2 separate regions of the Homo sapiens genome follow, and region 2 is linked to region 1. A link means that fine-mapping ties the variant in region 1 to the expression of a gene that starts in the linked region. Tissue or cell type: thyroid. Region 1 holds a variant in brackets; the other region holds the start of a gene. All regions are shown on one strand. Distances are from middle to middle.

What was found. PIP is the estimated chance that this variant, and not a neighbour inherited with it, causes the effect.
Region 2: SCAMP5 starts here. The variant in region 1 is fine-mapped to the expression of SCAMP5 in thyroid (GTEx, PIP above 0.99).

The regions. Positions count from the first base shown.
Region 1 is chr15:75,027,592-75,035,634 of GRCh38, forward strand. It overlaps PPCDC (phosphopantothenoylcysteine decarboxylase), which reads left to right. Exons shown (of 6, transcript NM_021823.5): 2 at 656-862. The coding sequence starts at 728. Among named protein-coding and RNA genes, the nearest start is that of PPCDC, 8.0 kb to the left of the region's middle. RefSeq lists enhancers at 1,587-1,776, 3,833-4,333 and a silencer at 6,288-6,481. The variant G/A (reference allele first, on the strand shown) is at 3,862.
Region 2 is chr15:74,991,292-74,999,334 of GRCh38, forward strand. It overlaps SCAMP5 (secretory carrier membrane protein 5), which reads left to right and starts at 4,272. Exons shown (of 7, transcript NM_138967.4): 1 at 4,272-4,382.

The sequences.
Region 1 (8,043 bases):
GAACCCATCCCTTCCTGCCGCTTCCTTTCACCAGTCAGCCCAGTCCACCGCAGCAGCTCCTCTCGCCCTCCAGTCTCTCCACTAACAGGGTCCCTTTGACACTGTCACCAGGTGCCAGCACCGTCTTTCTAAAACCAAAACTCCTCACCCTGGCCCTCGCTGCCCACGGCATTCTGGCCTCACCCTGACTTTCAGTCTCACTTTCTGCCCCTCTACCACCCCCCATCACAGTCCGGCCTCACTAGTAAGCCACTCCCTGTTCCCCAACCTGCCACCCTCCTCAGGACCTTCACCTTGGCAAGATTGTTCCTTCCTTTGAAGTGATTTCTTCCTGTCTCTGAAAAACTAACTCATCCTTCAGGACTCAACCCCAATGTCATTTTTTCTGGGATGCAATCTCTGACTTCTAGAGATGGTCACCCTGAGCAGCCACGCACCTGGTACAGCCCTTCCCCACAGCACTGCATCATTCCCTTGTGACTGGCCCATGTGTGGGGAAGGTGTCTCACTTTCTTATCAAACTGTGTGCTCCCTGAAGCCAGGACTGCTGATCCCTTCCGCTGCCTCAGCCTCTGGCCTGGGGCCTAATACGTGGTGCTCCATACATTCTGGTCGACTGTATGAATGAAGGGGGTGGCCCTTGTTCTCCTTTTAGATCCTAAATCCCGACAGCTTTATAGAGCCCAGGCCTGGCAGGCTCCCAGAACTTGAAGCCACCAGACCCCACATGGAACCAAAGGCCTCCTGTCCAGCTGCTGCACCCTTGATGGAGAGAAAATTCCATGTTCTTGTGGGTGTCACGGGGAGTGTCGCAGCCCTGAAGTTGCCTCTTCTGGTGTCAAAGCTTTTGGACATTCCTGGGGTGAGTATCCTCACCAGATAAGCATGGCAGCCTCCGGCATGGGAGGCCGGTGCTCCCGGGGATGGCCCATTGCTCTGCAGTACATGCAATTTTCTTTTTCTTTATCATGTTAATCATGCTTGTGGAGGTCCTGTGTGTGTGGTGCTCTGTGGAGGATTCAGGAGACAGAGACCAGTGCCCAGTGTAACCAGGGGCTAGATTAGATAGTACAGACAGGGCATGAGGGGAGACTGGGAAAGGACCCAGTGAACGGAGGGTTTGGGCTCCCATACATTAACCCTGAGAATCCGTGAAGTCCTGTGTGGGAGGAGGGCTGGCTGGAGAAGTGCAGCAAGTTCTCAGTATCCCCTCCTGCCTTGGGCTTCCCCATCCCTGCTTTCATTCCGCCTTGAACACTGCGGCTGTGTTCTCCCTCCTCGTGAGACCTCATGGTTGTCTTGTCAGTCAAATGCTCTGAAACCCCATTGTCTGAAGCTCTAGGTTCAAACTTTGCTCCTTCAGGTGTTCAGAGCTGCCCCAGGGGCCCCCGACTGTGTGCTGGGGTGAGGGACTCTAGCCCCCGTCCTTGGCCAGACCCTCAACTTGGATCTATTTTCTATATTGGGGTTCTGGTGCAGAAGTTCAAGGCTTTAAACAGCGTGAAATCTAACAGGGAGTGGCCCCACTTCCTAGTTCCACCTCCAGGGCCCTTAGTTGGTCTGTCTTATCCCCCTTGGTCTTTGCGTGGCTGGGCCCTGCTAGGCTGGCTGCCCTCTCTGCTCCTCTCTCGCCTTTTCACATTCTGTGCAAAGCCTTCCCTGTCTGCCCCAGCCCAGCCCCTGTGGTTTTGGCCCCTTCTTTTAAACTTATTTGACATAGAACTATAGGTTGCCTTAGACACTGCTGGTGTTACTGGCCCCTAGTTTTTGGTGGGGTCTTGTGAAGTTGCTGGGCCCCAGGCCTGGCTTTTCCCTCTTGTTATCAGCTGAGCACCCAAGGTGCAGTGGCCGTATCTGGCATGTCCAGCAGGGGGCGGTGCTTACTCACAGATGACCACGTGGTCACATCAGCTGGGGCTGGGCTGGGAAGTGTTTCACTTTTTTACTTTCCACCAACTTCCACCCAGAAAGTCACCCCATCACCCCACCCCCAGGGCTGGGATAAGCCATGAAGCTGCCAGCCAGGGATGACAGCCAGGCCAGAGTGGGGGAGGGAGGAGAGTCTCGTGGCACTCTGACACTGGGTGCTGCACTTTTAGGGCAGTGCTGCTTAGGCCCAGCCACCCGCTGTGTACCCAGAAGCATTGGTAGGAGCTGCCCAGCTAGAGCCGTGAGGGTGGGAGGCCTCTGCCACCACCCCCTGGGGAGGGAGGGAGCCATGCAGTTCCCTTTTCCCATAGCCCCAGGGCAAGTGAGTTTCCGGACTAGGGGTGGATAGGGGCGGGGAGTCCTATCCCAGGAAACAGATGGGCAGCCTCAGAGCGGAGGGAAATGGCAACCCTACCGCTTCCTCCCATCCCACGCAGCCAGCGTTTGGTGGGAGGGGGGTTGTGAGGAAAGGGTTGCCTGGAGCAGGGAGGTGCTCCAGCCCACCCCAGGGCCTTTTAGCCTGGGCCCCATGGGATGGCAGGCCATGTCTGGAACAGGACTTGGCTTCCCCTCTCTGGTTGGAGTTGATGCCAAAAGTGAGGCAGCCAGAGGGCACTGAACTGGGAGGGAGGGCTCCCCGACTCAGCCTCTTGGAGCTTGCCTTTCCCATTTGAAAATAGGGCTGATTCCTGCTGCCCATCCCCCAGACTCTTGTCAGGCTCCCTGAGATGTTGGCTGGGGTGGGAGGGGTCACAGATGAAAATGGTCCTGTGCCAGTGACTCAGCACAGAGCCTGGCATGTTGAAGCACTCGGTTGTGTGTGTTTCCTGGCCATCACCCTGTCCTTTCCCCTTGTTCATGTCCTTTGGGCCAGCCACATGGTGTGGGGCAACCCCACTGGGAAGAGCCATGGAAGCCACAGTTCACCTGCTCTTGTGGAGGGCCCATGCCTTTCATCTGCAGGGAGACAGCTCTCCAAGCCTGGCCTTGCTTATTAGGGCCCTCGTGAGGTGTTGGGATCCAAAGGTAATCCCTGGATTGCCTTGTGTTGGCCCCAGTGGTGGCGTCTATCCCTGCACACTCCCCTTCACTCCCTGATGGCCCTGATCTCCACATTGCCTCCTGCTGGATCTCCTGCAGGAGCATCATTGTCCCTTGGAGCAGTCACTTTCAGCTCTTCACCTGCTGAGTCGTGGGTTCAGGTGCTCAAGGCTTTCCGGAACTTCCTTAGGTACATCCAGATTTTGTCTAGCACATGAACAGCTGGGGTGTGGGCTGCAGGGAGCTGGGGGATTCTACAGATCTGGCCCATCACTGTTCCTGATTGACCAGTATGTCCAGACATCCCGGGAAAGCCGCTAATGTCAAGGTAGCCAAATCAGGGAGACTGTGAGGGGTGGTGGAGAGACATGGATTAGCCACAAGCCACACACACCAGCAGTCAGGGAGAGTAGTCACTAGCAGAGATGACCTTGAGTATGTTGGGGCAGGTGGGCAACCGTGTCACAAGAGAGGCAGCTGAGCACATTTCTGACGCTGGGACCCTGGGCAAGTCCGTTCTTTTTGGCCATAATTTTCTTATCCACACAGTGAAGGAGGGGCAGGTTCTCAAATGATCCATCTCCAGGGCCTCTTCTGGCACTGGTGTTAGAAGATTCTAGATGTGAGGGCAAAAAGGACTAGGACCCAAAGGCAGCCTGAGAGAAGGTCCTGGGGCTCAGGAGCTTCAGGATGCCGGGGGTTTTGTAGTTCCGTAGTTGTCATGTAATTGAGTGGCAGTAAAATCCGGGTTGTCAGCTCAGGCAGTTTCTTCCCTGGGGTTGGCAGCCTGGCCCATGCAGGGGAGCAAAAATGGCTTTCCTCCATCTTGCTAGGCTGCTTGGCTGGGCTATGAGTTCAACTGACTTATAAACAAAATTAACAGGGCCGGGC[G/A]CGGTGGCTCACTTTGGGAGGCTGAGGCGGGCGGATCACTTGAGGCCAGTTCGAGACCACCCTAGCCAACATGGTAAAACCCCAGCTCTACTAAAAATACAAAAATTACCCGGTTGTGGTGGGCGCCTATAATCCCAGTTACTCAGGAGGCGGAGGCAGGAGAATCGCTTGAACCCAGAAGGCAGAGGTTGCAGTGAGCTGAGATCATGCCACTGCACTCCAGTCTGGGTAACAGAGCAAGACTCCATCTCAAAACAATAACAACAAAAAACAAGATCAACAGGAGAAAACCATATTTAGTTACATATCTGCACATGGGTGTACCACAAAATATGAGATTCCCAGAAGGGTGAGATGGCTGAAGCCTGTATAGCAGCCTGAGCTACAGAAGGAAATAGGGGCTTGGGGCTTCTGGGGGTGGTGGCGACACAAGTTATGGGAGGGTGAGGGGAGGAATTATACGGTCTTGTTAGGCAGATAAAAACCTCTCAGATAATAAAAGATGCCTCAGCAGATTGTCAATAAGTCAGTCTTCCTTTCTCAGGGAGGGGGACTCAGGACAAGGGGAATCCCTCTTTAGGCAGATAAGAGAAGTTCAGAGAAAGTTCCTCCCTGCATTTGTTTTTCCCCCAGTGCCTTCAGGTTTGAAATAATCAGCATACCAAAGCCGCATATTATGGGGTGGCATTTCCTGAACTCCTTCATCCACACCCTTCAAACTTGGGAGGAGAAGACAGACATCGCCCTAGCTTTTGCCAGGGCAGGTGTCAGCAGAATTCAGAGCCAAAAGGGGATTTCTAAAGATAGAGAAAACCCCCAACTCAAGGAGTCAGCAGGCCTCGGGCTCAGAGAAGGATACATTTCTAGGGTGTCTGTCAGGACATCCAGGTCTGTCGAGGGTGAGGAAAAGAAGGCTCTGCTCATATGCAGTGTGGAGTAAATTCTGACTTTCTGGAGGACCACTTGACAATATTGAGAGAAATTAAAACATCTTCATAGTCCTTGATTTACCCACAGGATTAAACTCTGTGGGGTGTATTTACAAAGTGAAAGGATGTCCATTATAGCATTATTTATAATTTCAAAGCAAAACTGGAAGCAAACAAAATATCCAGCAGTAGAGAGCTGTGGTGCCCTTATGATTTATGGGACAATCTCTCAGTGGATTACTTGGCAATGATTCAGAAAAATGGGGTGGCTCTCTCTGTGCTGAAGGGAGCAATCATCAAGATGGAAGCGGAATAAGCAGGGTGTAGGAGCTAGCAAACTGGACCCCCCCCCCCAAGGCCAAATTCGGCTCTGCCTGTTTTTGTATAGCCTACAGCTAAGAATGATTTTTACATTTTAATTTTTATTATTTATTTTTGAGACAGGGTCTTGTTCTGTTGCTCAGGCTGGAGTGCAGTGGTGTGATCACTGCTCACTGTAGCCTTGACCTCCCAGGCTCAAGCAGTCCTCCCACCTCAGCCTCCCAAATAGTTGGGACTGCAGGCGTGCCATCACACTCTGCTAATTTTTTTGCATTCTTTTTGTAGATACAGGATTTTGCTATGTTGCCCAGGCTGGTCTCAAACTCCTGGGCTCAAGTGATCTGTCTGCCTCCACCTCCCAAAGTGCTGGGATTACAAGCATGTGCCACTGTGCCTGGCCTGATTTTTACATTTTTAAATGATTAAGTCAAAAGAAAAATAGTATTTTATGACTCGGAAAAAAAGTGATATGAAATTCAGATTTCATGTCCAAGACAATTTATTGGAACACAGCCATACCCATTCATTTACGTATTGCCTATGGCTGCATTCGTGCTACTACAGAGTTAAATCATTACGACAAAGCCTAAAATATCATCTGGCCCTTTATAGAGAAGGTTTGCCGACCCCTGGTATGCAGCCTGATTCCTTCTGTGTGTTCTTATACTGAGTTACTGCACACAGTTTTTTCCTCTGGAGGTGGTTACCCTTGTGAAGGGGGACCAGTGGAGGAAGGGAAACTTGCATTTTTCATTTTTGTATCATTCTGTTCAGTTTTAATTTGTAACCTATGTGTATATTTGTGTGTGTGTGTTTTTTTGTTTGTTTGTTTGTTTTAAGTCAGTGGGGCTTTTGGTGGGAATATTGGGGAACATTCTTGATAAGTTTGTGCTTTTTTTTTTTAAAGTGCTCACTGAGGAAAGAGCAGAAGACATAAGGCCTGGTTTGAGGATTTCTCTTTTTTTCTGGGTGGGGGCCACCTGCCCGCTCTGTGTCCTGATGTGGAAACTCTGAGACCTTTATTTGTGCCTCTGCCTGCTTGGCTGGCCCCTTCCTCCTCTGGCCTGCAGCCCTGTCACCTGCTCCTCTAGGGACAGAGCTCTGTCGGCCTCTGGGCAGAGGGTCCCGCACCCCAGGGTCCTTCCCTGATTGCCCAGAACAACGTTCCTGTGCAGAGCCTCCCTAGACCACCTCCCTGGTTTCCTTCTTGAGAATTTTCTGAAGTTGGGGAAGCACACAGAAGGGTTGGCATGAGGAGCTGACACAACCAGAACACCAGCTCCCCCAGGGGCAGATGAGAGCACGACTGTTTCCTGCAGAGCCAGGTGGGAAAGGTCAGGGTCACAGAAGGGCTGGGGTGGTACGGTGAGCTAGATGGAGCCCTACCATGTGGTCTAAATGGCCCATGCATGGGTCATAAGGGGAAACCAGGCACAGAGGAAGAGGGTCTCGCCCACGGCCTTCCAGGGAGTGAGTGAGTTAGCAGAACTGGGGGCTTGAGGCCAGGTTTCCTGGGTCCTATCAGTGAGTGAATTGAAGAGCTCAGACCTGGAGCTCATTCTCTGCTCAAGCTCACCAATGCTTGAGGATGGTGGAATTTGTGGATTCCTATCTTGGTCTGCCTTGCAGTTAGGGGTTACCTGTACCCCACCTATCTGTTAGACTGAGCCCTAGGAGAGGCCAGAGCTTGGATCTTATCAGCCCTGCCCCCACCATATAAGAGGCTTAGTAAATGTTTGCCGAGTAGAGGCATCATCATGAGCCATGGAACCCACTGAGCCAACCGGAACTCCCTTGGGGGTTTTGTTAAGGAGGCCACCTCCTTCACAGCTCCCGCGCCTCATGTGCCAACCGCACTGGGCCCCAAGAATCCTTTGTCCTAGAATGTACCCACCAACTCCCCTGCTCAGGTTAGTGTCAGCTTCTTAGCTGGCCGCTAGGACCTGGGCACAGATCTGGAGCATGCCATCGTCAACACTGGTAGACCCAATGTCAGAGTCCTCTGCTGTGCGTCCTGGCCCAGAGGACTGGGCCACCAAAGCCCTGGGTTCCTTGTCTTGTCACAGATTAAGTGCGGGGCTACCACTTCCTCTTTAGAATCCTCCTTGGTCTCCAGTGGAGGCATCATCACGCCCTACTAGAAACGCCTGCTCTCCAGCCACTCAGCTGCTAGTTCCAGTTGGGCTCTTCTCCTTTTCTTGTATATGCCAGAGCTGTGCTATCTGATATATTTAAATTTTCTTGTATATTCCAGAGCTGTGCTATCCGATAAATGTAAATTTGAATGTGGCAGCCGCTTGCCACATTCAAATTTAAATTTAAATTAATTAGAATTTAATAAAAAATTCAGTTCTTCAGTCACAGCAGTCACACCTCAGATGCTCAGTGGCCACATGTGGCCAGTGCTGCCACACCCTACGGCACAGGTAGGGCCGTTCCCATCATTGCAGAGATGGAAATGCTCTTCACGGATAATGCTGTAGAGTTGTGGTTCTCAACGGGGGTGATTTTCCCTCCCAGGGGACATTGGATAATGTCCAGAGACATTTTTGGTTGTCCTAACTTAGGGATGGTGGTGCTACTGGCTCTTGGTTCTAGTGGGTAGAGGCCAGGAATGGGCTTGGCGGTGGAGACTCAGGCCATGGGATTTGTCTCATCCTGTGGCTGCGAAGTGCCTCTCCACGAGTTCCTTTGATAATCTGCCCCAGACGTAGCCTGGCCACACTAGGGGCCTGAAGTAGAAACGGGAGGTATCACTCTAAATCCTCATTCCATTTCTCCTGACCAGACCCAAATCAGGATTCCTGATGTCTCTTCAGCAAAGAAAAGGAAACTAGACTTGCCAACTGGTTTCGGGAAGGAATCTCTATACATGCTAGATAAAATGCAGGCAGCTTATGTAATAGGGTCTGTCCAAGCCTCAGTCACATAC
Region 2 (8,043 bases), 36 kb before region 1:
ACCAAGACTACAGGAGCATGCTACCATGTCAAGCTAATTTAAAAAACTTTTTTTTTTTCTTTGAGATGAAGTCTCACTCTTGTCCCCCAGGCTGGAGTGCAATGGCACAATCTCGGCTCACTGCAACCTCTGCTTTCCGGGTTCAAGCGATTTCCCTGCTTCAGCCTCCCAAGTAGCTGGGATTACAGGCGCCCGCCACCACACCCGGCTAATTTTTGTATCTTTAGTAGAGACGGGGTTTTACCATGTTGGCCAGGCTAGTCTCGAACTCCTGACCTCAGGTGATCCACCCACCTTGGCTTCCCAAAGTGTTGGGATTACAGGCATGAGCCACCGCGCCAGTCAGGGGAGGCTCTTTGTTAAGAAAGAAGACTCCATATTGTAAACTTCCACAGGACTAACAGCATGGATGATAACGTGATTAACAGGATTATCATGGAGGTGACATAAGATGGCTCAGGAGCCAGGCTGATGGGTTTAGGTCCTGGCTGTGGTAGATGTCACAACACAGTGCCCTTCCCATACCCCTTTAGCCACTCCTGATGTTTTTTTACTATAAGCCCCTGGGATTTTCTGCCTGAGGGTGCTCTCTGCTCAGAAGGCACTCCGGCAGGCTGGAGGTGCCAGGAACAGCTCTCAACTAATGAAGAAATCATCAGTGTCATCACTCCTTCAGTGGGATGAGTACCTTGTCTTCTTCACTCTCCCAGAGATGCCCAATACAGTCAAGCCCCATTTGTCCACAGTGGTAATCTGCTGATTATTGCACCCTATATTGCTTTTCTTCATTTGTTTGTTTCACTCCCCCTCTCTCCTACTAGTGCTCCACGGAATCATCTCTCAAATGGACCATTTATATGAACATCCTTATCTCAGTGTCTGCCTCTGGGGATACCCAGCCTAAAGATAGTGGTTCTTTTATTTCTTAGATCTATCCATCCAATTTCCTTGGGCAGATCACTTTACCTCTCTGAATTTCACTTGGCTCATCTATAGAATATGGATAGTATCACTTCTTTCTTTCTTTCTTTTTTTTTTTTTTTGAGACCGAGTCTCGCTCTGTCGCCCAGGCTGGAGTGCAGTGGCGGGATCTCGGCTCACTGCAAGCTCCGCCTCCTGGGTTCATGCCATTCTCCTGCCTCAGCCTCCCAGCAGCTGGGACTACAGGCACACGCTCTCATGCTCGGCTAATTTTTTGTATTTTCAGTAGAGACCGGGTTTCACCGTATTAGCCAGGATGGTCTCGATCTCTTGACCTTGTGATTCACCCGCCTTGGCCTCCCAAAGTGCTGGGATTAGAGGTGTGAGCCACTGCGCCCGGCCCAATAGCACTTATTTCTTAGGATGGTCATGCAGTTTAGCATTTCACTCAGACATTAAAAGTTCAGTAAATACTTCTATTTTTATTCGTTTACTGGCCTGTAACATAAATATTCTCCCAGAGACTCTTGGATGGACATGCCTCATTCAGGCATAGCTAGGCAGGGAAAGATAAGCAGCCTGGAGCTGGCCCTGTGGGACATTGATTGATTGGGTTCCTGTTCCCAGTTACTTGCTCCCTCTGCAATGGGATTAAATGTCCCCACCATTTGTCATGTGACTTATCTGGCATCCTGTATGGGTAGCATACCTCCCTGACCCCCATGAATTAATTTTGGGCTTACCCATGTGACTTGCTTTGAGTAATGGCATATGAGCAGATGTGACATTCTCCACATCTGCAAAGAAGCTTGAAATGTGTTACTGCATGGTTTGGCACAGGCTCTCTCACCCCTGCCCTCCACTACAACAAAGACATGTCTCCAGTGCCTGCCACGCAGTTTGAGCTAGCACCTTTAAATACTTTATTTATTTATTTTTTTGAGAGGAAGTCTTGGTCTGTCGCCTAGGCTGGAGTGCAGTGGCGTCATCTAGGCTCACTGCAACCTCCACCTCCTGGGTTCAAGGGATTCTTGTGCCTCAGCCTCCTGAGTAGCTGGGATTACAGGTGCACACCACCATGGCTGGCTATTTCTGTATTTTTAGCAGAGATGAAGTTTCACCATGTTGGCCAGGCTGGTCTCGAACTCCTGACCTCAAGTGATTCGCCTGCCTTGGCCTCCCAAAGTGCTGGGATTATAGGCGTGACCCACCGTGCCTGGCTTAAATACTTTATTTTTAATTTTTAAAAATTGTTTTATCCATCTATTTACAGATCATTAAATACTTACTGTGTACCAGGCAGTCCCATATGTTACATGTGTCTGCATGTATTAATTCATTTCATCCTTGCAGGAACCCTAAGACACGGGTCCCATTATCACCATCCTTATTTTACATATGTGGAAAACTAAGGTTCAGTGAGGATTAGTACCTTCTCAAATTCACACTGCAGGGAAGGGGCAAGGTCTGCCTTCTAGGTTGATATTCTTAACCACTGCTGTATGCTTCTTCTCATGGTAGGTAACCAGCAAATGCCTATTAAGTAAACGTTTGTTTAAGTGATCATTGTTCCCTTCCATTTACCTGAATAGGAAAGGTACAATCTACTGGGACAAAGGTGGGCTTCTGACTTTGGACCTGCTCACTCTTCCTACGTTAGTTGTTTATCAAATAGGAGACCCTTCTGATTCTTCTGAGTGGAGAAAAATTGTCCGTGGTCATCAGACGGGAACCCCAATATTTCCCTTGTAGGACCTACATGAACCACAAGATATCTCCTATAAATTCCATGTGGTTTCCAGACATCTTCCTTGTGGATCCCAGTGTGGACCTCAGATCTCTCTCCTAAAGGCCTATGTGAACCCCTATATCTTTCCTGAGGCCCACATGGACTCCCAACATTTTCCCTGTAGCAGCCACACTTGATAACTTCGACAGGTTCCCAGTTGTCATCTCATTGGCTGCTCTCCACAGCTCTGTAAATCAGCCTTGGCTTGCATTATAGCAGGGAGAGACAGCATGTGGGTCAACCAGGGACAGGACTGACACAGAACCCAGTTGTCCTGCCCCGAAGCCCAGGACCCTTCCTTCCTGGTTGGCCTGGTGGCAGGATGATGCTTCCTGCTCAGCCCTTCCCAGGCACCGAGGCTCTCTCCCTCCTTTTCCCCTCTGCCACACTAGTTCTTGTCTGCCTTTTTTCACTGCCACCCCCTTTTCATGCCAGCTGTGGGAGTGAGGCCCCACTCCTGGCAGGATGGAGCCAGACAATGGGCCCTTATTCTAGGCAAAGAATCCCTGCAGTGTCTCCCACCCACTGAGGCCCCCTTCCAGGCCTAGGATGGTGTGGGTGGGGGGTGGAGGGTGGGTGTATGGTGTAGGGGAAGGAGCAATTGGCTGGCAGGACAGACAGTGGCCCTGGCCCTGCCTGTAGAGATCCCACGGAGGTTTACTATGTAAACACCAATCACAATAAAATCCTGTCTTCACTCCCAGCCCATCTCTCCAAGTGGGTCTCTCTCAACCCTCCAAAGCTCTGGGTTTTTAAACATTTACCCTTGCCTCTACTCTCTCTTGGTATTCATCTCTGCATATCACTGTCTCTTTCATTCCTTTTTCTGAGTCTCTTTCTTTTTCTAAGCCTCTCCTCTCTCTCTCTCTCTCTCTCTGCTCCTTTGCGTAATTTGTCTCTATTTCTTGCCTCTTTCTTGCTTCATTATGCTCCCTTACCTATCTTATCTTTCCATGTCTTTTTTCTCTCCAGGCCTTGAGCTCTCATCTCAGTCTCTCTCTCCGTGTGTCTCTGTCTCTGTTTGCAGCTCTTCTTTCTCGTCCTCCTATGTCGTCTTTCCGTGGATCTGTGTCCTTGCCTCTCTGAATATCATCTCCGATCTTCCGTCCTCTGTTCTCTCTTTCCCCCTGCGCCTGCAGATCTGAAGGACCTTCCGCAGTCACCACACTCTCCTGCTTTCAGCTCTTTCTCACTCCTTTCTGGCACGTCCCAGAGGCTCCTGGCATAGGTATAGGAGGTTATTCTCCCCAGTTTACAGATATGGAAGCTGAGGCTCTGGCTGCTGGTGCCAGGCTCCCATCTCTGGGTCTCTTCCTTCCACCTACACGCCAGGCTCTTGTCCCTGAGGTGCCCGTCAACCACCTGATCCGGCCGGGGCCCGGGAACTAGCACCTCGGACAGCTCCTGGAAGATGCCGGGGCGGCCGGGTCGTCCTTCTCGCGAGCTCAGGAGGAGCAGCCTTAGGAGCAGAGCGGAAGTCTCGCGAGAGTGACTGCTGCAGGCAGTGGCGGCGCGGGCGCGCGCAGAGACGGCCTCGGGCGCGCGCGCGCGCGCGCGCGCTCCCCGCCCCCAGCCCCGGAGCGGCTCGCGGCCGGCTCCGCGCCGCATCGCTCGGGTGCAGCGCAGCTCAGCGCAGCGCTGCGGCCTTTCGGCAGCCGAACGGCCGCGGCAGGTGAGTCTGGGCATGAAGGCTGGGAGGAGAGCTTTGAAGGGAAGCTGGGCGCGGGGCGAGAGGTGTGGGGGTCGCTGGCTGCAGCTTTGTTCCTCCTACACTTCACCTTTGGATGCAGGAAGAAGGCCGAACTGCTGGAGAGGTGGGAGTGGAGGTGACCTTTACTGTTTGGGGCTGGGGGAGAGCGCTCAGGGCGCACCCAGGCCCCCCGAGCCCCCCAAGCCCCCCCATTCCCATCTGTGGCTCCCGCAGAGGGAACTGGGCCTTTGGGTGACGTCAGACCCTGGATCTGGAGCCTGAGCTTTGGGCCCTCCATCCCCCCCGCCAGCCCCACCTGGCGTTCCCTGGAAACCGGCCTTCTGGAGATGGCGTGCGCAGCCGGGGATGGGGGCGACTGGAAGGGGGTGCCCGTGGCTTCCTTTGGGCCTTTCCTTCCAACTAGCGCCTGCAGGTGGACCCGGGTTGACTTCCCTCACCTCCCTCGGGCGGCCGACCTTTGGATGGCGGACCTCAGCCGCCCCAGGGTTGCGAGGCGACGGGCGCGCTGGCCCAGGCCACCAGGCGGGCTCCATCAGGGCTTTGGGTGGTGAGTTGGGGGCGCCGGATTTGGCTCATTTCAACGCTGGCCGGAGGTCACGAGGATGGAGGTGAGGTGTTTGTGAACCGATCCTTGTCCTCCGCCTCGGGGAGCTCCTGGTCTGTGGGTTGGGGGAACCAAGTAGAGACTCGGACTGAGCATTCACTGTCACAGGCGGCTTAAACAAGTAATGTCCCAGCTTCCCGATGGGGAGATCAGTGAGGGCCTGGCAGACTTTCCCAGGGACACAGAGAGAAAGGGAGGCGACAGCTAGCGAATAGGAGACTTCCAGAGGTGATGGGATTTGGGTGGGAGGAGAGGCAAGAGAGGGCATTCCAGGAGAATGTATGGGCAAAGGCACAGGGATGAAAACGAGCACAGCTGTTGGGGGCTGAGCCTGGGAGCTCAGCCATGTGACTGCCCATGGGGTGGTGGAGTCTGGAGAAATTTGCAACCTGTCCCCTACATGTTCTGCCTCACGGAGCAGGGCTCTGAAAGAGGGAGATGGTTCTTGCAGGGGCATGATTGGCAGAGAGATTTTGTTTGGGGCTACACAGGTCTTGCTAACTTAGGTTTGTTCTGGGCTTGGTGAGCCTTAGGGCAAAGTCTCTAGAGCTGAGAGGGGGCTGTCTCTGGTGAATGGGCCCCTGAAAGAGGGTCTTAGGTTTAGCAAACCCCTTGGAGAGTTAGTGGGGTCCCAGGAGGGGAGTTCTAGAGAGAGACCTTGGGCTCTGTGGCTGTTTCTTTAACCGTTTCCTGAGTGGCCACCTCCAAGCAAGTTCCCCAAGTCACCTCCCCTCTCTGGGCATCTCTTTCTAGCACCTTTCTCTAGAGATGAAATAATAGGACTAAGTAGTGACCTCCCTTGAGGATGCTCCTTGTTCTAGTTTAGAGCATCCCCCCTTTCTTCTCCCTCTTCCTTTTCCTTTCCTCCCCTATCCCTCTGCCTCCCTGTCCCTATCCCCACCCCTTGCCCCCCACAGCATTTCCTTTACAGGCTGCACTTCCTTCCCTGCTGCCAGCCAGGAGTTTCGGAAGGTTTCCTGGAGGAAGTGTGATACAGCAGGTTTGACAGCAGCTTTGGGCTTAATCTGATTGGGGGAGGGCGTTAATTGCCTCCCTCCCACCCATTGGGAAAGTGTCCAAGTCTTAAGCAAGTATATGGATTGACTGTGCTCTGTGCTGGGTCCCTCCTGGAAACTCCATCCAGGAGGGAGTGAGGAGATTATGGGAGAAGACGTGAACACTTAGTGCCCAATGACTGACTCAAAATGTATGCAGCGGGATGCAGAGCAGCGATTTTTGGAAAGGCTTCCCAGAAGGGGTGGGATGTGAGAAGGTAGCAGGACTTAGAGGAGCTGATAGTGCTGCCAATTTAGGGGCACTGGAAGCAGAGGGGGCGGCTAGAGATGATCTCCTGCATGAGGCTGGGAGTGTAGGAGGCAGGTCAACCTGTGAGCAGCCAAAGGTGGTGGGAGGGAGGTTTGTAGCTGACTGGCACAAAGCCTTGAATGCCAGGCAAAGATCTGTAGGAGGCTACTGAATAGTCATCAGTAGGACAGGGACAGCATGGCCAGGAGACTGCTGTTTTCTGAGGATTATTCATAGTTCTGGGATTTCAGGGCAGAAGATGGGGCTAGGAGTGGGATGAGGGGATTGGAGGTAGAGCAGGAGGGGGAAACTTCCATCTTAGCAGGTTGGCTCTGGGCAGCAAAAAGGAATCACCATTTCTGTGCCAGGGATGAGGGGCCCATACTGGTGAGCAGGGAGCCCTGGAGTTAGCCCCAGGACTCTGGCCTGATCTGAAGCCAGGCTTGACCCTCGTCTGCTGCCAGAGGCCTCAGTCTCCCCACTGTGGGGGCTTCTGTCCTAGCTTCACAATAAGGAATGGAATACATTATAGTTAGGGTTTCATGAACAAAATTCAGGTAGTAACTGCTATCTTATTGATAATTAAGGTGTTTCCCTAGGCCTACATCTTTGGAGGGATATGTAGCCCTTATCCCCATTATAAAAGATTATCAGTTGAGCAGATTGCTAATTCTTCTGTTTTGTAGTCTAAGAACTTTGGTTTGGCCGGCGCGGTGGCTCATGCCTGTAATCCCAGCACTTGGGGAGGCCGAGGCGGGTGGATCACCTGAGGTCAGGAGTTCGAGACCAGCCTGGCCAACATGGTGAAACCGTGTCTCTAGTAAAAATACAAAAATTAGCCAGGCATGGTGGTGCACGCCTGTAATCCCAGTTACTAGGGAAGCTGAGGCAGGAGAATAGTTCGAACTTGGGTGGAGGAGGTTGTAGTTAGCTGAGATCGTGCCACTGCACTCCAGCCTGGGCAACAGAGTGAAACTCCATCTCAAAAAAAAAAAAAAAAAGAACTTTGGTTTGCAGAGGCCAGTGATTGCTGTCTTCCCCTCCAACCCCCCACCCCCCATTTCAAAGGCTTCCCAGAAACAAGGGCAGAGAAGCCTGGAGCCTTCCATTTCTGTGACCCTAGTCTTTTACCACCCTCTCAAGCCCCAGATTCTCTCTGCCCTAACCTTTATATACAAACAAGGCAGCTTTGCCCTCTGCTCTGGTTTCTGCTCTGAATTATTCATACTTTGCTGCACTGACTTCTCTGGAACTGTAAGCAGACTTTTGGGAGATTGTCTGGGACCAGGGACAGGGGTTAGGCTGGAGCCCGGTTAGGGAGAAGACTCCTCCTTTGAGGCCCCTATGTTCTAGTTGTTTTCTCCTCTCCCTCTGCTTCCTTGTTTTCCTGGAGGTCTTTAGTGCTGGACCACAGTCTCCCACTCCATGTCCCATTGTCTCAGGGGAGGTAGTGCCTCTTTCAGTCACCATTTTAACCAACTACATCTGAATGTGGTCCTCATTGGCATGTGGCCACCTCTGAAATCTTAAACTCTAGTATTTCTCTCTGACCACAGTCTAACTAATGCTTTATGTGCTCTGACCTCAAGGAGACCTCTAGTTCTCAGACACCTCCATTTTCTCCATCTCATGAATTGCCTCTTCCGTGTTCTTTCTGAACTCCATGCCCTCAACCACTTTGCCACTTTGCCTGTGTGTCACCCGAGCTGCCAG